Regions from separate parts of the Homo sapiens genome. Here regions 1, 2, 3, 4, 6 and 7 are each reported to be linked to region 5. The links are microRNA targets in miRTarBase. Many come from high-throughput screens and were not tested one by one. Region 5 holds a microRNA gene; each other region holds the end of a gene's coding sequence. Distances are between the middles of the regions.

Evidence for each region. The annotated mature microRNA hsa-miR-5010-3p reads UUUUGUGUCUCCCAUUCCCCAG and lies in region 5 at 1,688-1,709, shown strand. An mRNA with a match to its seed (bases 2 to 7 or 8) in the 3' UTR can be bound and repressed. Matches are read on the target gene's strand: a 7mer-m8 pairs with bases 2 to 8, a 7mer-A1 pairs with bases 2 to 7 and ends in A, and an 8mer does both.
Region 1: the mRNA of ZEB1 is a reported target of hsa-miR-5010-3p. Seed matches in the 3' UTR shown: 8mer at 2,681-2,688.
Region 2: miRTarBase lists RPP25L as a target of hsa-miR-5010-3p. Seed matches in the 3' UTR shown: 7mer-A1 at 2,665-2,671.
Region 3: the mRNA of HECTD2 is a reported target of hsa-miR-5010-3p. Seed matches in the 3' UTR shown: 7mer-A1 at 1,876-1,882 and 7mer-A1 at 1,011-1,017.
Region 4: miRTarBase lists CLIP4 as a target of hsa-miR-5010-3p. Seed matches in the 3' UTR shown: 7mer-m8 at 1,588-1,594.
Region 6: miRTarBase lists CCL16 as a target of hsa-miR-5010-3p. Seed matches in the 3' UTR shown: 7mer-m8 at 1,376-1,382.
Region 7: the mRNA of PLXDC2 is a reported target of hsa-miR-5010-3p. Seed matches in the 3' UTR shown: 7mer-m8 at 575-581 and 8mer at 990-997.

Annotation. Positions count from the first base shown.
Region 1 is chr10:31,527,021-31,530,136 of GRCh38, reverse strand. It overlaps ZEB1 (zinc finger E-box binding homeobox 1), which reads right to left. Exons shown (of 9, transcript NM_001174096.2): 9 at 333-3,116. The coding sequence ends at 2,873. Among named protein-coding and RNA genes, the nearest start is that of MACORIS, 180 kb to the left of the region's middle.
Region 2 is chr9:34,608,030-34,611,145 of GRCh38, forward strand. RPP25L (ribonuclease P/MRP subunit p25 like) reads right to left here. Exons shown (of 2, transcript NM_148178.3): 2 at 2,466-3,116. The coding sequence ends at 2,776. Among named protein-coding and RNA genes, the nearest start is that of RPP25L, 2.5 kb to the right of the region's middle. RefSeq lists an enhancer at 2,986-3,116.
Region 3 is chr10:91,512,025-91,515,140 of GRCh38, reverse strand. HECTD2 (HECT domain E3 ubiquitin protein ligase 2) reads right to left here. Exons shown (of 21, transcript NM_182765.6): 21 at 321-2,877. The coding sequence ends at 2,757. The region is part of intron 3 of HECTD2-AS1 (HECTD2 antisense RNA 1); the gene reads left to right. Among named protein-coding and RNA genes, the nearest start is that of HECTD2-AS1, 98 kb to the left of the region's middle.
Region 4 is chr2:29,181,369-29,184,368 of GRCh38, reverse strand. CLIP4 (CAP-Gly domain containing linker protein family member 4) reads right to left here. Exons shown (of 16, transcript NM_024692.6): 16 at 561-2,797. The coding sequence ends at 2,476. Among named protein-coding and RNA genes, the nearest start is that of CLIP4, 67 kb to the right of the region's middle.
Region 5 is chr17:42,512,580-42,515,579 of GRCh38, forward strand. It overlaps MIR5010 (microRNA 5010), which reads left to right and starts at 1,609; the gene lies at 1,609-1,728. It overlaps ATP6V0A1 (ATPase H+ transporting V0 subunit a1), which reads left to right. Exons shown (of 22, transcript NM_001130021.3): 20 at 1,282-1,399; 21 at 1,710-1,881.
Region 6 is chr17:35,974,894-35,977,999 of GRCh38, reverse strand. CCL16 (C-C motif chemokine ligand 16) reads left to right here. Exons shown (of 3, transcript NM_004590.4): 3 at 269-1,501. The coding sequence ends at 434. Among named protein-coding and RNA genes, the nearest start is that of CCL16, 5.0 kb to the left of the region's middle.
Region 7 is chr10:20,279,336-20,282,451 of GRCh38, forward strand. It overlaps PLXDC2 (plexin domain containing 2), which reads left to right. Exons shown (of 14, transcript NM_032812.9): 14 at 368-3,116. The coding sequence ends at 484. Among named protein-coding and RNA genes, the nearest start is that of MIR4675, 270 kb to the right of the region's middle.

The DNA.
Region 1 (3,116 bases), not on the chromosome of region 5:
TGCCCTCATTGAACTTTATATTACATTGTGGATACCTCCTAAGAAGAGTATCTTATTCTTAGTTCCTAATCCTTTTCAGTCAGTCTGTTTATTGGTAGCTGCTCTCAGTGACAGGGGAAATCAGGCAACATGGTAACGAGCACCTACGAATATGGGGTCCTAGAAAGGGAAGTGAATTCTACAAAGGAGAGCTGACTAGGATCAGTCCTATCGCTCCTATTGGAGGTAGTCATGTCCACAAGCCAGCAATACCTGTGCCATATACCATGAGGTTAAGCACCAGGAAGACACCTAGAAATACACTTTCAAAAAATCAAAATAGTAAGGCAATAGAAAAAGAAGGCATAATTTATTGTGTCTATTATGACTAGTGTTTAATAAGACTTATAAGAAAATAATCAAATTATTAGATCATTTAACATATATTCTGGAATTAGAAGCAAAAAAAGTGAGAACATAGCTGAGCTCCATAAACATGCAAATTATATTTTTATTCAACAAATATCTGTTGTCCCAACTTATGCCAGGCACCCTGTTAGGCAGTGAGGAATGTGAGAGTGACTATGACAAATGTGGTTCCTGTTCCTAGTGGGGAAGGAATATAAATAATAGTATCAGAGGTATGATGACAGAAGTGCAGGAGCTGAGAGTCAGAAAGGCATCTAAACCCAGGCTTCCCTGAAATGACCTGAAGCATGAAATGCGGAGGATTAAGGATTTCAGGAAGAAGGAGCAACCTGTGAAGAGGTTTTGTCAACTCTGACCTCTCCAGAAACATTTAGCCACAAGAAAATCCATAATTTAGTGGAGAATGTCTAAAACATTTAGTGTTACCCAAATTCAGCTCAAGATGAATCAAATGCAGGATGACAATGTACCCCATTTCACAGTTTTCCAAAGAAAATACTGATAATGATGAAAAGAATGACAGCAGTTCAGGCTTGTTGATGCATTTTATTGTGAGATGGGAGTCTGGTAAAAAACTAGAAAATGACCATGATGTAACAAGGAACTTAAAAATGAAGAGTCAGATCTGTAACTTACATACATGAATACAGGAACAAATTGGCACAAAATGTTAAACATTGTTCCCAACACTGTTTATAGAAGTTAATCCTAATTTGGCTTACTAAGGAAATGAGAGTTGTATGGTTAGGCTGATTTCTTAATAAAACTGCAGAGCATCATGCTATTAGTCACACAGTGAATTTCAAAATTTAAGTTTTATATTAAAAACTGGGTAAAGGTAAAATGACTTGATTGTAGTTGTAAAACTAATACATTCCCATTTAAGTTCTGTTCTACAGTCCAAGGCAAGTATAAATGTTAACATAACACTGTTAAATCAAATCTCAATGCAGGAGAACCAATTGCATCTCTACTTTAAATCTTATCAACTTTCCAAATTTTCATACTAAAATATATTATTGTATTAATACAAACTACAGTATTATACACTACACTGTGTAATAAATAAAGAAATATAAAAATAAGACACATAAATATAAAAGTTTTCTAAAACTAAAAGTACATATGTCAGTAAGAAGGGTATTAATACTGCCAGGTTTGAAGACATACAGTACAAAAATGTTGCACAGATCTATAAACTAAAAGAAATAAAATAATACTGATAGGTAAAAATCAGCTAATGTTGTTAATAAATTGGGTCCATAATAACTAACATTTGGAAACAGTTATGAGCCAAATAACAATAGCATGTCCATGTCTGAAATGCAAGTACATGGATAAAGCAGATTAGAAAATTTCCCTTTCGTTTCTGTAGAGAAATTCTGAAAATCAATCAACATAAAATCAATACCGAGGAATTGAAGGATGAAATGTCCCAGTGTTTCAGTTTCTCTGACAGAGTCAGTGGTTTTAAGTTTTATTTGGGAATTTTGATACAAGAGACAAATCAACAAATGCTAGTTATTGTAGGCCACACATTGGATGAAGGCGGGTTAGAGCCTTGAAAATACTGAGAAATGGCACTTACAGCACACAGGTCTTGCTTAAGGCCAAAGGAGATACAAAGCTTCATGTCATATCCTTCATATGTTACCACATATTCAAACACAATCACAAACACTGATTCTGATGATTTTGCTGTCCTTATCAGATTAACATTGTTAGTCCCTGCAATCAGAACTCAATGGCAATCTTTTGAACTCCATTTTAAACCACGTGAGTAAGAAACTTCAGTTCTTCTATCAGCTGCTTTCTTAAGGCTAACAATACACTTTAAATGATAATACGCTCTACTAAGACATCTAAATATTAGAAATTACTACCTTCTAGACTGAATTTATAAAAGGTAGTTAGCACGGGTTGGAACTACATTATACTTCTCTGTGAAGGGAATTTTGTAGTGCAGAAGTTCTCACATTTTAAAAAACATAATAAAATACTGAAGCGGATTTAGCATATGTTTACCAATAAAAAATTATAAAATTTCTCCCAATTGTACAGCTTAAGAATAAACCAACATAAGAGTGATAATACTGATAAGATAAAACAATGCCAGATGCATATCTAATTAATCAGCTTCCTTTAACCTCTTGTATTGTTGCTCTCTGAGTCATTAAGGTTTTCTAATCTGCTGCATGTTACAAACTTGTTCCTAACTTTGAAAACTGCATGAAAAATTACTAGGTCTGAGGTTCAGGCACACCCGGATTTATTTTGTGTGTGTGTGTGTGTGTGTGTGTGTGTGTGTGTGTGTGTTTTGTATTTTGTATTTTTTTAGTTTTTACTTTACACAGTAGTGAACAGGAATCACAGCATACAGGTTACTGTGTTTCCATGAAAAGCAAGGATAATATTGAACGAAATTCATTATCAATTAGAATTTATTTTCCTTCTAGAAAAACGATTAGGCTTCATTTGTCTTTTCTTCAGACACTTGCTCACTACTCTCGCCTACTTTTTGTCCTAAGCTGCTTGCTTGACTTTCAGCCCTGTCATCCTTCATCAGACCTTCAGTTTTTGCTTCTTCTCCCTCATTCTCTGCCTCTTCTACCTCTTCTTCTTCCACTTCTTCCTCCTCCTCCTCCTCTTCCTCATCCCCTTGTGGTTTTTCACATTCTTTTTCTTCCTGCAATTCTTCCATCTCTTTA
Region 2 (3,116 bases), not on the chromosome of region 5:
AGCCTGGCCTACATGGAGAAACCCCGTCTCTACTGAAAATGCAAAATTAGCCGGGCATGGTGGCGCATGCCTGTAGTCCCAGCTACTCCGGAGGCTGAGGCAGGAGAATCGCTTGAACCCGGGAGGCGGAGGTTGCGGTGAGCTGAGATTATGCCATTGCACTCCAGCCTGGGCAACAAGAGCAAAACTCCATCTCCAAAAAATATATAAATAAAAATAAATAAATAAATAAAAGGCAAGGATGAGACCTGGAGAGAGATGTGGGATTGAGGTTTTTTTTTTTTGAGATGGAGTCTTGCTCTGTCGCCCAGGCTGGAGTGCAGTGGCGCAATCTCGGCTCACTGCAAGCTCTGCCTCCTGGGTTCACGCCATTCTCCTGCCTCAGCCTCTCGAGTAGCTGGGACTACAGGCGCCCGCCACCACACCCGGCTAATTTTTTGTAATTTTAGTAGAGACAGGGTTTCACCGTGTTAGCCAGGATGGCCTTGATCTCTTGACCTCCTGATCCGCCTGCCTCCACCTCCCAAAGTGCTAGGATTACAGGCATGAGCCACCATGCCTGGCTTTTTTTTTTTTTTTTCTGAGATGGAGTCTCGCTCTATTGCCCAGGCTGAAGTGCAGTGGCGGTTCACTGCAACCTCCGCCTCCTGAGTTCAAGCAATTCTCCTGCCTCAGTCTCCCACGTAGCTGGGATTACAGGTGCCCACCACCACGCCTGGTTTTTTTTTTTTTTGTATTTTTAGTAGAGACAGGGTTTCACCATATTGGTTGGGGTGGTCTCAAACTCCTGACCTTGTGTTCCGCCCGCTACGGCCTCCCAAAGTGCTGGAATTACAGGCGTGAGCCACCGCCCCTGGCCTTTTTTTTTTTTTTTTTTTAAGATGGAGCCTCATTCTATTGCCCAGGCTGGAGTACAATGGCGTGATCTTGGCTCACTGCAACCTCTGCCTCCTGGGTTCAAGCGATTCTCCTGCCTCAGCCTCCCAAGTAGCTGGGATTACAGGCGCGCACCACCATGCCCAGCTAATTTTTTAATTTTTACTAGAGAGGGGGTTTCACCATGTTGACCAGGCTGGTCTCGAACTCCTGACCTCGTGATCTGCCCTCCTCGGCCTCCCAAAGTGCTGGGATTACAGGCTTGAGCCACCGCGCCTGGCCTGTTTTGTCTTTTTGAGACAGAGTCTTGCTCTGTCACCCAGGCTGGAGTGCAGTGGTGCAATCCCAGCTCACTGCAACCTCTTCCTCCTGGGTTCAAGCTATTCTCCTGCCTCAGCCTCCCAAGTAACTGGGATTCCAGGCATGCACCACCACGCCCAGCTAATTTCTTGTATTTTTAGTAGAGATGGGGCTTCACCAAGTTGACCAGGCTGGTCTTGACCTCAAGTGATCCACTCGTCTTGGCCTCCCAAAGTGCTGGGACTACAGGTGTGAGCCACTGCGCCCAGCCTGTTTTCTGTTTTTGAGACAGGGTCTCACTCTGTCATCCAGGCCGAAGTACAGTAGCACAATCATGGCTCACTGCAGCCTCAACCTCCCGGGCTCAAGCGATCCTCTTGCCTCAGCCTCCCAAGTAGCTGGGACTAAAGGTGCACACCACTATGCCTAGCTAATTTTTAGATGTTTTTGTAGAGACAGGGTCTCCCTACTATGTTGCCCAGGCTGGTCTCCAACTCCTGGGATCAAGCAATCCTCCTGCCTCAGCCTCCCAAAGTGCTGGGATTACAGGCATCAGCCACTGTGCCCAACCCAAAGATATGATTCTAAGACAGGAAAAAGCATGTTTGCAAACTAGTGGAGTTGAGGATAAATGTGTATACAGACAGGTCTGGAGGTGAAGATGGAACATGAGGGAGTTCGAAAGGCCTCTGTCTCTTCAAAGCAGAGTCCAGCTCCATAGCTGAGATTGGGGCAAGGAAGCTGGAGGGAAGGAGGTGTGAGACAGTTGTTGCATTTGGGATAGGTAAGTCATTAATAACGATAATAGCAATTAACACTTAATAGCACTATGTGCCAGTGTGGTATCTAAATGTCATATATGTATATTTCCTTATGTAATCTCATAACAATCCTATGTGATAAACACTATCGTATTCCTGTTTTATGGATAAGACCACTAAGGCACAGAGCAGTAACTTGCTAATAAGTGGCAGACCAGGATTGAAACCCAGGCAGGTTGGTACCAGAGTCCATGCTCACAACCACTATACTATACTGTATGCTGCAGATGGAGAGAAATGTCTGACCTGGCAGTGTTCCTAAACCAGGCCAAAGCAGGGGCAAATAACTATCCAGGGAATTAGATATATTCAGTACTGACTGAGGCTTCTTGTAGACACTATATTCTCCCAGCACCGGCCTGAGCCTACTACTCTTCCTCTGTCTTCACCCGATCAGCCCCCCGGGGTAAGGGCGGGGACTCCCATTTCTTTAATCCCACTCCACATAGCAGGCTGAGTAGAGGCTCATCAAATAGGTAGAAACTTTATTTCCTAAATCCCTCCCTGGACCTCTTTCAGAAGGCAGTTCAAATGCACTGTAGGTAGAAGGCAGAGGAAGCCCTTATTTAGCAATGCAGAACTTGGCAGAGGCCCCACATCTGTCATTCTTCACAGCAGTCCCTTCCCACATGCTAGAGGGAAGGGGAAGCATGATAGGGAGGTCCACTTTTGTGGACTCAAACCTTGATGGGGATGTTGAGCAGTCACAACGCTTCTCAGAAAAGGCACAAGCACCCCAGACATTCAGGCCCGGAGAACAGGCTGGCTCAGCAGGTCTTCACGATCGGGTGTCTCGAGCCCTTCTTCGGGAACGAGGGCCACAGCTGGAGCTGGGCATGGAACCCAGGCCAGGGGGTGCTCCTGGGGGTTGGTAACCACACTCATTGGGGTCCAGGGGGTCCCGGCTGAGCAGCACCCACACTGCAGGCACATGGCGGCGCACTGTGAGGGGGTCTAGCCCTGTGTCAGGTGAGGCTGGGACCCAGCTGTCCTCAGTCTGAAGGAAACGTAGCTTGGTGAGCTGGTGCAGGCCTGGGACCCGCCGCTTGACAATCTCAGCGCAGCTGACAGCCTTTCCTGCAGCCCTGCCAGAACCTGAGAACACTACATGCCGAGCAC
Region 3 (3,116 bases), not on the chromosome of region 5:
TGTGGACAAGGGGAAAAGGGCCAAATGAATGGTTTTGGAGAGGAATACTTACTTAAGAGCTGAAGTTATCTATCTACGGCCAATGAAATGTTACACTTGGTTCACTTCTGGGTGTACTCCAAATGGTATTATACATTCATTTGGTGGAATAGCTGTGTGATCTTTCAAATATTGGATATACATTTCATGCTGAAAATATGCTACAGAGGTTGGTAATACTTAATGTCAACAACATACATCTTTTGAAGTTATGTGTCAGCAATTTTCCTAAGCACTAGATTGAGAGAGTATAATGCAAAGAATAGCTTGCATTTATAAAATATTTTAAACATATGGCTTTAATTAATTGCCCAAGTGTTCAAAAAATAAACTGAAGCCTGACTGACTGTATAATTTTAATATTTGAAAAATTGCATCCAGAAATTAATACAATACAGATTTGTACAAAAAAGGAAGGACGTAAAAACTTCTAATCATACAGACAAAAATATGACTGACTAAGCAAAGATTTTAAAAAAGGACAGGATGTTTAAAAAATACTGATAAATACTGTGTAATGCTTTAATTTACTGTGGCAGATACAAAAATCAATAATTCATTAACAGATTATATATGTAAAAAAAGTAACTACATGAATTTTCTAGCTTTTTAAATTAATAAAATGTAACAGTAGTGGTTTTTATTTTTTAAATGAGGTATTATTACACTGTAAACCAAAAACAGAGCACAAATAAATAAAGGCAATGTGCAATTTAGTGATAAATGATTATACATTTCAACTTAACAACAGATAACAAAAATTCTCTAGTTATTTATGGACTTCGTCATCTAAAAATTTGGCTTGCTTGTGTGGACTTCTTATTTAAAAGTGACACAGCTAATCGATATACAAGCACATCATTAAACATGCAGACCAAGCCAACACAATTTTTCCATGAGTCATCTCTACCAAATAAAAACTGTTTACATTTTATTTAAAACACTTAAATCTGGTTTCTTATACATGTTTCTTTTGTGCTTATAAGTGGTAACCTACATTAAAAAGCTGATTTTCTAGTTCAAGCAGTGTAAGAGAGAAGCAGTTTTATTTGCATATGGATTTAAAACAGAGCAAAATGAAACAAAACCAGGATGCCTTTAACTCTCTTAGGCTTTCCAAGATTTTTAAGAAGAAATACCCTTGAAATAATATACCCAAATGGAAGAGCAGAATCACTTCCATCTCCAAGAGAATAGTAAACAAAGTGACCCCTTTTCCTCAAAGATTTGTGGGTTGGCTTCAGAACTGTTGGAGAACAAGCTGATTAGTTCCTCCACCCTGGAAGAATTCTGCTGGTTGGGTGCAGGAAGCATAGCAAGAAAATAGCCTAGCCCAGAAAGATTTTGGGGAAAGTATTATTTGCATATGAACCATATGCTGGTACTAAATGCTGGTTTCATTATTATTGCAAATATAACTTCAGAGTTTTCTGAAGGAAAGCTGTTAAAGTATGGTAGAGAAGTCTTGGTTTGGCAATATTTGTAACATGCTAATAAAACTGCTTCATTTGCTGTAAATTAAAAAAAACATTTACTGTCTGACTTAAAATGCAGTTTCTTTTTACATACTACTTTATTAGAAACTCTAAAAAAAGGGTACTTTGAATTTATTATATTCAGAATCCAGTGAAAAACAAACATTTTGGCCAAAACGTTGAATTTTATTTTTATACTAAGCTATATCATTTTGACACAAGTGTTATTATTGTATTCACTTTTGTCAAATACTTTAACCTATCTTTTTCAAAAATTAGTGTTTTGGTACAACTGGTGATCAAAAAATGTAGATATAAGTCTTGTACATGATTCAAAAGATTTATAAAAGCAGTTATATTCTTTTGTGCTTGTAACTGACATACTTCATCAATGATTATTTAGGTCTGATTTCTTTTCTAATATCTTGAGCCTTAAGAAGAAATGATCATTATACAAATATTACAGAGTACACAAGTAACTAGTTTACTGCCAATGTGCATGCAGACTAACAACACTTAAAAGAATATAACCTTGAATCCAATTAGTCTGAAAATACTCTTGTACAATCATCTTTATTGATTTGTAAAAGCTGTGTACACATCTAAAACCCTGAATTTACTTTGTAAAAATAAATCTTTAACAATAAATGGCACTATCAAAATCCCATTATTCTCAGGCTATTATGTAGTTATTTACATGCTTTTCAGCAACTGCTGAGAAGAATCTTATAGGTCCCAAGCCAGTATATCAAAAATCCCTGTAAACTGCATTTGCAATGATACTGTGTTGTATACCACTATATGAAAATATGGCTACATGCCTTATGTTAAAGATAATGTAGCTGTTTGCTTTGCTACTGTGTGCTAGCAGTGCTAGCAGTGTACAATCTGCCACTGGGTTCAACTATACCATAAATTCATTCTTCACTGTACTTTGCTTTCCCAGTGGAATGCCTGTGACAAACTACTTGTGGAGAATGATAAAGTGCTATATAAAAGAGGAACTGGACCATACCTGTCTCTGCCATGTGGACTTTTCCTCACTCAAGCGATTTCTGTGTGTGTTTTTAGAAAATTATGCCTTTGCTGAACATACTTCATATTTGATTTTTTAAAAACTTAATATTTTAAAGTTGGTGAGCTTTGTCAAAGTGTTTTGAGACAGAAACATGAAAAGGCTAAAGGCACAGTAAGAGGGAAGTGAATGCTACATATAAAAGATTATATTTCAAGTCTTCTAGGTTACTCAAGTCCAAAACCTTCTGAATTTGAAATTCCAATGATCAATTTCTGTTTCAGATCCTTTTTGCTCTTGTAGGGGGGAAGGCAAAGTTGATTGAAGCAGGTATGGGCCACAGGTAAGCTAGGGAAAAAAATTAAAAAAAAATACTAAGTCTTGAAACACACACAAAATGACTGCTATGCAACTTTAAAAAATACCAGGACACACACATTCAAATCTATTTCACTCTGTTAAGAGATGACTCATCCATTTCTTCACTGAACAGATATTTACTGAGTACCTCACTTTGTATCAGACACCACTCTAGACACTAAGGCTGTGGTTACAGACAAGACAACCAATGTTACCACTTTCATGAA
Region 4 (3,000 bases), not on the chromosome of region 5:
TCCTCAATCTCGTGAAGGAAGAAAGAAATAATAAGCAAGAAGTTGTAATCAGTAATAAGCATGACCAAATGCTAAAGAGAAAAATAAAACATGAGAGGGAAACAAGGAGCTCTTGGGAGGAGGTGCCAGAGACTCACAACAAGATTACAACACCAGAGTTCACAGTTAGCAAACAGCAGTACTCAACATTCTTACATACTTAAAAATATTCCCCCCAAATCACCCTAAATATAAAAACAAAGTTTTTTAGTAAAAGGCAGCTAATTATTTCTATTTTTTAATCTAAATTCAAAGTGTTCCATCCTACCCTAAATAAACAAGTGAAATCCCAACTGTAGAAATACGTTCTTTTCTTAAATGACTCACTATTCATCAAAACAATACTAATAGGATGGTGGCTATGAACATAGACTGTTGAGTAGAAAGCATGATACTTTTTAATACTCTTTATAGGGACAGGACAAATCCAAGCCATTACCGTGAGGAAAAAGTTCAAAGCATATGCACCCTGAGTTACTGAGAAAAGCAGAGTTGCAAATAGGGTAAATGACAAGATACCATTCCAAAACCACACAGCTTCCCTTTTTATTGATGCTCAAGAAGTGAACTTTAAATGACATTTCATAAGCAAAACACAAATGAAAACACCTAATGTGCATGTATAGTATATGTAAACATACATAGTATATGGACTCAATCATCCTCATCTAAATATAAAGAGAACAACTGGTTCTTTGACCTCAAAAATAAATTCAATGTTGGCATTACTGTTTTTAACTTACAGTGTTTTATATTTAACAGGAAAAATTATGAATAACCAAGTTTGGTGTGGTCATGGATTTCATGTTAAGGTATAAATAGAGTTTTTAAGAAATAATCTGTATAATAAAATAAGTTTACTTTTGAATCGCAGTACAGTCATTTCCTTCAATCAATAAAAATATTCCTTGATTACAAAGCAGCCTTATTTTGCAAATGTATTTCAGGAAAATAGCTCTAGCAATATTTGAAATACCACACTATTTTAAAAAGGCAGCGAAGTGACAGAATTTAGATTTAAAATAGTATATTGCAAAATAGTTCAACATATTATTTCTAAGCACAAGGCAAGCTCCATTCTGAAGGATGCTTTTTAATCTTATAAAGCAAACTGTTCCAATATTTCTGTGGTAAAGTCTAAATATTTACAATAAAAGATGAATCTTTACACAGACAGGACATAAACTTCAATACCTAACCACAATGCAAACATTTTACATTATGACATCACTCTAATGTGAAGCTTAGTTTGTTAACATGTGCTCAAGAAGGAAAATAAAAACAATACAGTTCTGTAGCTTTGTAACAGGCAGAACTCTGCAACAATTAGAGAAATAAAAACAGCAAACAACACCAGTTCTATGAGTAACAAAACAAAAAAAATCCAGATATTATAAACATTTAAGTAAATAACTAATACATCCTTCCTGATATATCTTTATTTGCTCTCTTCTGTTAAATACGTTTTTTAAAATGTTTCTCATATCCCAGGAGGAAAGGACAGTAAATTATTCACAAAGATAAAAGTGCATCATGTTTGAAAAGTGCTTTGTGTTTATGTGTTACAAACATATCCAATAAGGAAGTTAAGTAAGTCTGTGCAAAAAAAATCTAATTATTACTTGAATTCATAAACCTTAATCATGGGTTTTTTGTAGTTCATCCAGATGAAGCAGTCAAGCAGCAGAAGAAAAATCTGAGATTAGACATTTTGTATAGCAGAAAGAGCACTGGGCCACAAGTGAGGAGACCCACAGTCTATTCTTAGCTCAGTTAACCAACCAGTTAGTGACCCCAGGTAAGACGGGCTTCCATTTCAGTATTTGGCAATGGGCAAGAAGCAGAGCTGGAGAGCCTCTAAGGCCCCTTCCAACTCCAAAATTATCATGTATCTTTAGATGAGGCATTTCTGAAAGGGCAAATAATTTTACCAAAATATAAAACTACATACTAGTCATCTAGCTACTACTCACTCATTGGACTTATTAGTAATAAAGCACAGAAAGAAAGAAAAATTCCAAAAATGATTGACAAAAAAAGGTCACGTGAACATTACACATAACCAAAGCTAGAGAAACCCTTCACAATTAGGGCACTAAGAAAAATCCATTATGATGTGCAAAAACAAAACAGAATAAGCAAGAAATGCAACAGCTGGTCACCTGATGGCACTTTTTCTTCCTGAGTCCCAGAATCTTCTTGGAACCTAAAGCTTTAATTGGTACTTATTTTGAAAATTGCTTTAAAAGAACCATGATTCCCCATAGTTCATATTCATGGCTTTGTAAAGAACTCTCTCTGAATTGTTATAATGGTTTTTAAGAAGATAACTATATTTTCAAAATTTTAATATGGCTAAATAAAGTAAACCATTTACCATGGACTCTTTATTTACACCAAATATATATATTTGAGCTTATTTAATATTTTAGAAGCTTAACAATTCTCATCCACAAGTTTTGACCCATTAATTCCCCGATAGGTCACTCTGCTCGGTCGAACTAAGACTCCATGGTTCGGCTTACAGGTGAAATAGCGCTTGTCACCCACTGACCCATCATTTTTTCCCTTGGCGCTTCGGAGCTCAAGTCCAAGCCAGATACCTGAAGCAAAGTCAGTGGGGCCCACATACCTAACAGTACCCATCTCATTGGAGCTCGTGAGCAGGACCTGAGACCCCTCGTGCAGCTTCACGCTCCCTTCAATGCCACCTGCGGTGGGGGTGCTGCTCCAACTGCGACGCAAAGCAGCTTTCGATCTGTGCGGAAGGGAAAAGTGGGAAAAATTATTTAGTGCTGAAGCCACGTAATGCAATGCATCATATTCATTTCCACTGCCAGATTCAGAATTCATTCACTCAGTTCCCAAAAGAGAATACTTTATGGTCACAACTTGATTTTTAAATTTTAAATAGCAGTTTTAGAGTATACAGTTGACCCATGAACTACACAGGTTTGAAGT
Region 5 (3,000 bases):
AATAGGCTAGGTGTCGACAGAGGTGAGGGAGAAGCAGACGTTCGCCCAGAGATGGCATGGTGGAGCCAGCCCCCTCCACGCTGGCTGCACCCCTGTGGCCTGGGCTGTTGTGGCTTTACCAGCCAAGCCACTTTCTCCCATCCCCATGTTCTCAGTGATTTCCCAAGGCATTTCTGGTGTCCTTTGGGAGTGGAATCACGTGGGTTTTGAAAGGAACTGCGGTGAAAAATAGACCCTGACCTGAGGGCAGGGGCCGATGGGGAGGCCACTGAGCCCTCAGGAGTGTCTGAAAGCTCAGAAGATTCTGGTCTGGGCTCTGCGGGGGGAAGCCCCATAAGGGAGCGCCTCCTGGTCTTTGGTCAGCTTGACAGAGAGGCCCAGGGAAAGTACCTGGGGCTTCCAGAATATACCAAATTCAGAAGCCCACATTCACCCCTGACTGTGCTTGGAGCAAACCTGAAAGTTCACTCCCAAGAGCTTGTTCCAGCCCATTCCTTTATTCTGGAAATAATTCTTGGTATTGAAAGGAAAACTGGGACAAAGGGAGCTTGAGGAAAACGAAAACAAACAAGAAACTGGAGATATGCTATTTAGTCTTAACCCAAACAGATATGCTGTTTGGCCTTAACCCATGTGGAAATTTGTAAACTTTGTCAGGATTTCCCTGTGCATGGTGGTGAAATCATGTAGGGAAAAAAAAATTCACCGTGTAATCTCTTTAGAAGTCACAAAAGAAAAAGAAGGTTATCTTGCTCCCAAAAGGCTGTAAAAAGAATAAGTAAAGTGGCCATAGAGGCCTAGTCTTCTCAGGACAGTGTCCGGGTTGAGAGTCTGTCTCCTGAAGCGCACTCTGGGGAAAATCCCTTCCTGCCCTCCTGCAGGTCCTTAGGGTCCCAGACCCAGACAGTCACTTTCTCAACAGAGTGCCGTCAACTCAGCACACACTCCTCTCTTGAGCACAGAGCCCCAGAGGGAGAAGAACAAATGTGTTGAAAAGAATCTTATTAAGATGTAGTTAATTAAAATGTAATGTATTGAGGGGAATGGAGGTGTCCCAGGTGAGGGCTAAGTCAGGCAGGATTTTTGGGGAAGGCATTGCCGAAATCACCACCTGAGCTCAACACTGGGTGCTTCTGGCCCCTCCAGAGTTGAGGTGCCATCCATGGGAAGTGCAGTCCCCTGCCCTGGCCCAGGTTCAAAGCGCCAAGTAGCCACAACTCAGAATGCCTGCACGTTCCCCTCCTAGCCTTATATCTTCTCTCTGGTTTCCTCCCACGACAGTTTGACTTTGGGGACACCATGGTCCACCAGGCCATCCACACCATCGAGTACTGCCTGGGCTGCATCTCCAACACTGCCTCCTACTTGCGGCTCTGGGCCCTCAGCCTCGCTCATGCGCGTGAGTACCTCTCTCCGGGCTCCGGAACTCTAGTTTCCCCCTCTGTGGGCGCACTGTCAGTTGGGGGGCTTAAGTCAAATGGAAATTACATGAAGGTTCTGGAATTATTCAGGTTCCTGAACCCAAGGAGAATGAGTACAGACAGGAGGCTCAGCACTTGTGCCAGGTTAGCTCTGCATGGTGGTCCCACTAAGGCAGTGGGAAGCCAGGATCCAGGGAACCCTAGAGCAGGGGGATGGCAGAGCAAAATTCATGGCCTACAGCTGCCTCTTGCCAAACTGCACTGGATTTTGTGTCTCCCATTCCCCAGAGCTGTCTGAGGTGCTTTGGACCATGGTGATCCACATCGGCCTGAGCGTGAAGAGCTTGGCGGGAGGTTTGGTGCTGTTCTTCTTCTTCACTGCCTTTGCCACCCTGACCGTGGCCATCCTCCTGATCATGGAGGGCCTCTCGGCCTTTCTCCACGCACTGCGCTTACACTGGTGAGGGGCAGTGGGGCAGGGCGGGCATGGGGGTGGATGTGTCCTTAGCTGCGGTGAGAGGGCAGCTTTTCTCCCACACACAGCCCTGCAGCTCTGTGCAGGAAAGATGAGCTGGCCCTGCACTAGCTTCACCTCAGGACACCCCAGCACCGGCATTGCCACAGAGTTTCGGAAAATGGTCACAGAAAAGCACAGCTCAGCCTTCCCTAGGCTCTAGGGAGATGTCCCTGGTGAGTGGTGTCAGGTCCCGCTCCCTGCCTTTAGCTGTCCCCAGTGCTCCTGATTTTGGCTTAAAGGGGCTGCTGGGGTCTTAGGGTTTCTGGTTTTCTCTCTGATGTGTAACTCTTCTGTCTTCAGAACAGTGGAAGCAGCTCTGGAATGTATGTTAAGTGCAGGAAAGGCTAGAACACGCTGCACCCCAGCTTTATCCTCTTTGTTCTGTCATTGTGCCAGGGGTCTTTGAGTTGGACCCCTGGCAGCTCCATTGTGGACCGGAGGGATTCCTGGCTCTATAGGGTGGAGGTCGGTACACTCACGCAGCTTCTTCACATGGGCAGGTTTGGGGTGGTTCTGTTTGTTTTCTTTAATGAAGCTTGTGACTCTTAATGGCTGTGTGTGGAGAGAGCATGAGTTCAGCCTCTGGGACTGGGAGAGCGGGGGTGTGGTCTGGGCTGTGACCACCTCAAACCAGCGTTGCCAGATGTAGCACATAAAAGTACAGTTTGGCTGGGCACGGTGGCTCATGCCTGTAATCCTAGCACTTTGGGAGGCTAAGGCAGGTGAATCACCTGAGGTCAGGAATTCGAGACCAGCCTGGCCAACATGGTAAAACCCCGTCTCTACTAAATATACAAAAATTAGCCAGGTGTGGTGGCACGTGCCTGTAATCCCAGCTACTCAGGAGGCTGAGGCAGGAAAGAATCTCTTAAACCCAGGAGGCAGGGGTTGCAGTGAGCTGAGATTGTGCCACTGCACTCCAGCCTGGGCAACAGAGCGAGACTCTGTCTCAAAAAAAAAAAAAAAAAAATAGGGGAGGGGTTGGGGGCCAGGCACGGTGGTTCACTCCTGTAATCCCAGCACTTTGGGAGGCCGAGGCGGGTGGATCACCTGAGGTGGGGA
Region 6 (3,106 bases), 6.5 Mb from region 5:
GATTAATTCCTAATTTTGCCACTTTTAGCTATGTGGTTCATTATGAAACCCAAGCTTGAGGGTCTAGGCTGAGTGGAGAAGGGACTGAGAGAAGGGATGGTAAGGTTCTGAGGCCAGAGAGAGAGGCTGTCTGAGGGAACCCAGCCAGGACAGGCCCAGGGAAGCTTTAAAGAACATAAGGTGAGCTCCATGTGAACCAGAGGTGGGGGTGGGCACCGGACTCCTGCCCGAGTCTGCAGCCCATGACGGTCTAATTCTGCCTCTGCAGCTTCGTCACCAAGAGGAACCGAGAAGTCTGCACCAACCCCAATGACGACTGGGTCCAAGAGTACATCAAGGATCCCAACCTACCTTTGCTGCCTACCAGGAACTTGTCCACGGTTAAAATTATTACAGCAAAGAATGGTCAACCCCAGCTCCTCAACTCCCAGTGATGACCAGGCTTTAGTGGAAGCCCTTGTTTACAGAAGAGAGGGGTAAACCTATGAAAACAGGGGAAGCCTTATTAGGCTGAAACTAGCCAGTCACATTGAGAGAAGCAGAACAATGATCAAAATAAAGGAGAAGTATTTCGAATATTTTCTCAATCTTAGGAGGAAATACCAAAGTTAAGGGACGTGGGCAGAGGTACGCTCTTTTATTTTTATATTTATATTTTTATTTTTTTGAGATAGGGTCTTACTCTGTCACCCAGGCTGGAGTGCAGTGGTGTGATCTTGGCTCACTTGATCTTGGCTCACTGTAACCTCCACCTCCCAGGCTCAAGTGATCCTCCCACCCCAGCCTCCCGAGTAGCTGGGACTACAGGCTTGCGCCACCACACCTGGCTAATTTTTGTATTTTTGGTAGAGACGGGATTCTACCATGTTGCCCAGGCTGGTCTCAAACTCGTGTGCCCAAGCAATCCACCTGCCTCAGCCTTCCAAAAGTGCTGGGATTACAGGCGTGAGCCACCACATCCGGCCAGTGCACTCTTAATACACAGAAAAATATATTTCACATCCTTCTCCTGCTCTCTTTCAATTCCTCACTTCACACCAGTACACAAGCCATTCTAAATACTTAGCCAGTTTCCAGCCTTCCAGATGATCTTTGCCCTCTGGGTCTTGACCCATTAAGAGCCCCATAGAACTCTTGATTTTTCCTGTCCATCTTTATGGATTTTTCTGGATCTATATTTTCTTCAATTATTCTTTCATTTTATAATGCAACTTTTTCATAGGAAGTCCGGATGGGAATATTCACATTAATCATTTTTGCAGAGACTTTGCTAGATCCTCTCATATTTTGTCTTCCTCAGGGTGGCAGGGGTACAGAGAGTGCCTGATTGGAAAAAAAAAAAAAAGAGAGAGAGAGAGAAGAAGAAGAAGAAGAGACACAAATCTCTACCTCCCATGTTAAGCTTTGCAGGACAGGGAAAGAAAGGGTATGAGACACGGCTAGGGGTAAACTCTTAGTCCAAAACCCAAACATGCAATAAATAAAACTCCCTTATTTGACAGCTTGATTCCTAACCTCCTGCTTTTTTTTCTGCTAGGGTGAAAGAAGCTTAATCTCAGTTTTTTTCAGGGGCTTCTCCACATTTCTTGAGACTTTTGTCAAGGTTGGGGGCCATTTATATTCAATCTTCCCCTCTGTCTCCAGCTTAACAGCAGACAGCTGACTCAGCTCGCTTGGATTCAACATTCTCCCAAAACGCTGTTGTGAAGACAAAACAAAAGCCAGGTAATTAAGACCGGATGGTTAAGACAGGTAATTAAGACCGGATGGTTAAGAGAAACAAATAAATGCAGTGAAGTGTCAAGCTGAAAACGGGCCAATGAATTGGATTCTGGTAAACTGACTCATAACTGCCCCCCAGTGGCCATGTTGTTAAAACCCGAGCCTCCTCCCTTGGCCGGCGCGGTGGCTCACGCCTGTAATCCCAGCACTTTGGGAGGCCGAGGGGGGCAGATCACGAGCTCAGGAGATCGAGCCCATCCTGGCTAACACGGTGAAACCCTGTCTCTACTAAAAATACAAAAAAATTAGCCGGGCGTGGTGGCGGGCGCCTGTAGTCCCAGCTACTCGGGAGGCTGAGGCAGGAGAATGGCATGAACCCAGGAGGCGGAGCTTGCAGTGAGCCGAGTTCGTGCCACTGCACTCCAGCCTGGGCGACAGAGAGAGACTCTTGTCTCAAAAAAAAAAAAAAAAAAAAAACGAGCTGCCTCCCCAGCCCAAGCTCATCTTCCCAGGATGGCCATCTCATCTAGCTGGCCAATCAGACTCTCAGAGAGATTTGAAATTTGGACCTGAGAAACTCAGTCTGGTTGCTGCTAGAGCAGAAGTGAGTTTCTGGCAGTGTCCCAAGGAAAGAGGTCTATGAACTTCTGTCCTGAGGTCCCTGGAACTGCCTCACTTCCTGCCCCAGCTCCAGGCTGGGAGCTTCAGCTGGTCTTTCAGTTCCATGAGATGTCCCAGCATCTTTCCTTTAAAAAAATTTCTAGGCCAGGCGCGATGGCTCACACTTGTAATCCCAGTTCTTTGGGAGGCCAAGGCGGGCAGATCACTTGAGGCCAGGAGTCTTGAGACCAGCCTGGACAACATGGCCCATCTCTACTAAAAATACAAAAATTAGCTGAGCATGGTGGTGGTCGCCTGTAATCCCAACCACTCAGATGGCTGAGGCATGAGAATCGCTTGAACCCAGGAGGCAGAGGTTGCAGTGAGCTGAGATCATGCCACTACACTCCAGCCTGGGCAACAGAGCGAGACTCCATCTCAATTTAAAAAAAAAATTCCTAAAGGGCCATGGTGGCAATTTAGCACCTCAGGAATAACTTATTGGTTTAGGTCAGTTCTTGGCGGGGGATGATGGATGTATGTGTGTTAAAATAGACATAACAGGGGCTGGGCAAGGTGGCTAACGCCTGTAATCCCAGCACTTCCAGAGTCTGAGGTGGGCGGATCACTTGAGGCCAGGAGTTCGAGACCAGCCTGGGCAGCATGGCGAAACCCCACTTCTACCAAAAATACAAAAAAAAAAAAAAAATTAGCCGAGCATGGTGGCCTGGGCCTATGGTCCCAGCTGCTCAGGAGGCTGAGGCAGGAGGATCCCTTGAGCTGG
Region 7 (3,116 bases), not on the chromosome of region 5:
GTGTCTGTGCCCATATATTAAAAAATATTTTCTATTACAGTTCCTTTTTGCCTAGTTATATTTGAGCATTTCAGACATATGCATAAGGCATTAAACCTTGCTTGGGAGAAGCTCTGAATCCTTTGAGGGCAGGTGTGACAAATGGTCTTTCCTGTGACAGGGGTAGATAGCGCCATCTTGGAAATGCAAGCACAGGGCTTGGAGGGTTGATAAGGGGAATTCTTAATTCTGACTGTAGCTATAATAAGAGATAATTTAATGTGTTAATTAATTCAACATTTAATCTAAAATAGCTAGCAAATAGATTTTTCTGGTGCTAGAATCTTACCCTGACGCACATTTTTTATTTTTGTGTTTTCTGTTTCAGAGACGCCCAAGCAGATGGCCTGCGATGAAGTTTAGAAGAGGCTCTGGACATCCTGCCTATGCTGAAGTTGAACCAGTTGGAGAGAAAGAAGGCTTTATTGTATCAGAGCAGTGCTAAAATTTCTAGGACAGAACAACACCAGTACTGGTTTACAGGTGTTAAGACTAAAATTTTGCCTATACCTTTAAGACAAACAAACAAACACACACACAAACAAGCTCTAAGCTGCTGTAGCCTGAAGAAGACAAGATTTCTGGACAAGCTCAGCCCAGGAAACAAAGGGTAAACAAAAAACTAAAACTTATACAAGATACCATTTACACTGAACATAGAATTCCCTAGTGGAATGTCATCTATAGTTCACTCGGAACATCTCCCGTGGACTTATCTGAAGTATGACAAGATTATAATGCTTTTGGCTTAGGTGCAGGGTTGCAAAGGGATCAGAAAAAAAAAATCATAATAAAGCTTTAGTTCATGAGGGATCGACACCTTTGGTTCAAATGTTCTCTGATGTCTCAAAGATAACTGTTTTCCAAAGCCTGAACCCTTTCACTCAAAAGAGCAATGATGAATGTCTCAAGATTGCTAAGAAAAACAGCCCATGCAAGAGTGAGAACAAACACAAAATAAGAGATTTTCTACATTTTCAAAACAGATGTGTGGCAAAAGGATGTTGTTTTTCTGGTCTAGATCCATCTGTACCAACAAGTTCATCACTTTACAGAACGAATCTTTTTATCCGTACAGGAGGTTCAAACCATGTCTGCCTCTTCCTTTGTAATGAATGACCTTTCTATGAGCTGTGACAAAATTTCCGAACAATTAACTAAGGATTTGGGAAGAGGGGGTGGCAAACGGGGCTTTCTGTTTTCCTGCCTCAGCATGAAAACATCTGATTTATGCTTTATGGAAGCCTTACCTCCAATCCCCAACTGTTAAGTCCCATGAAACCACAGTTGCTCTGGGCTGATGGAAACAAAAGGAAACAGTATGAAGAGTTCCTTAATCATTTTTGAAACAAAAATGTTAAGGGATTTTAAACATATGATTATTTTTAATTTTATGCCTTTTCAGTACTAAACACCCATTTCATTGCTGATTCCTGTCTAAGAAGCCATTCACGTCAGCATGGCGATAGAAAGAATGAAAAAACCCTGCTGAATCATACAGTAATTTTCTTTAAAGCACATAGTAGTTACATAAATATATATATATAAATATATTTTTGTTTATAACTAACACAAGGCAGGATCTTGTGACTCTAAGAGTGCGTTTTGTCATCAAGGCAAAACAGATGCAAGATGCATCACTGCATTACTTCCATAGAGTTGTAAAATAATCCTTAATATTAGAATATTTTTCTGTCACTTAGCAAAAGTGGTTCAGTTCATTGCCGCGCCCATCATGTTCTTGACTATTTGATCCACTTTTTCGTTTATGTCAACCCCTTCCCTCTCTGGCTAAATAAAGTGGATGCAGAAAGCTCCTTAAATGGAGATATCGATTGCCTTGGAATCACAATCCTGATTTTGAAAATTCCTCATGAATGAAGAAAGGAATGGCATCCCTTGAGAAGGAAAGTGGTTAATATACATACTGAGCTCCTAAAGTTTAAATTCAGGTACTGAGTGTACAATTTCACCAACATTCTAACCCATGAAACTTTTACACTCTGTGCCAAGAAACTGTTGGCTTTTGTAAGGTACAGTGCTCAACATTTGCAGATTCAGGTCTCAAGAAGCAGAGATGTCTCATAAGCAGCATTTTCCCAACAGTTTAGCATCTGTACACATCTGCCTTGGTCATCAGTCCACTCACAGAGTACCATACTTTATCATCACAAGTGTCTGACGTGAACGAATGCCATTTTCTATTCCATATATTTTGCTTTACAATTTTAAGTATTTGATGAAGATGGTAACTTTTTCCTAACTTAGTTAACTATTAAAAAAAATTTTGAAAAGCAAGGTGATTGAAGGATTGTGATGACAATCTCTTTGCAGCAGCTATGTATGGTTTATGTGAAGTATCCCCACTTATTCTTGTGGAGCAGGTTTGGTGAGACAGCAATAACCAAATGACATGCCAATATTACTGGTGCAACTGGTATTCTACAAATGCATAAGGAACACATAGACGACTTCCTTTTAGGATAAAATGATGCTTCTTTCACTACCTTTTGTGGTAGCTGTGGCTTCCAATAGCAACTGTTTGACAGTTATATAAATCTTGCATGTGTATTCTTAGTTTGTGTCCCTTAAGTACTACTTAATTCTCAAGTAGTAATGTTATTCTTATACCCTTCAGCGTTCTATTTTGATTCAAAACAATTGATTCAAAACAATTTTGAATCAATTTTCTATTTTGATTCAAAACAATTGATAATTCTGTAAAAAAACATAAACACTGAATTCTTCAGTGAACCAAAGCAACAAATAATAGAGAAAACTTCTTGAAACTGGAGTGTGGGAAAACTTCTTAACAGAACTAAGAGTTAAAGGTAGTGAGAAGTGTGTGGTGTGTGAATTCTTTAGTGGTAAGGGGAAATGTGGGCTAAATCCTTTTCTTTCATGAAACTCTCATTCTATTTTATATTTCTGGTTTGTTCTTGTTCCCATGTGAGAAAACATACAGTTTCTGAAAATTCAAAATGGTCATCAATGCTTTGGACTTTACATAATTATGTATTAGAGAAGGTGCAACTGTACATTACTTAATATACTATGAACATAATAGAATAACAAAA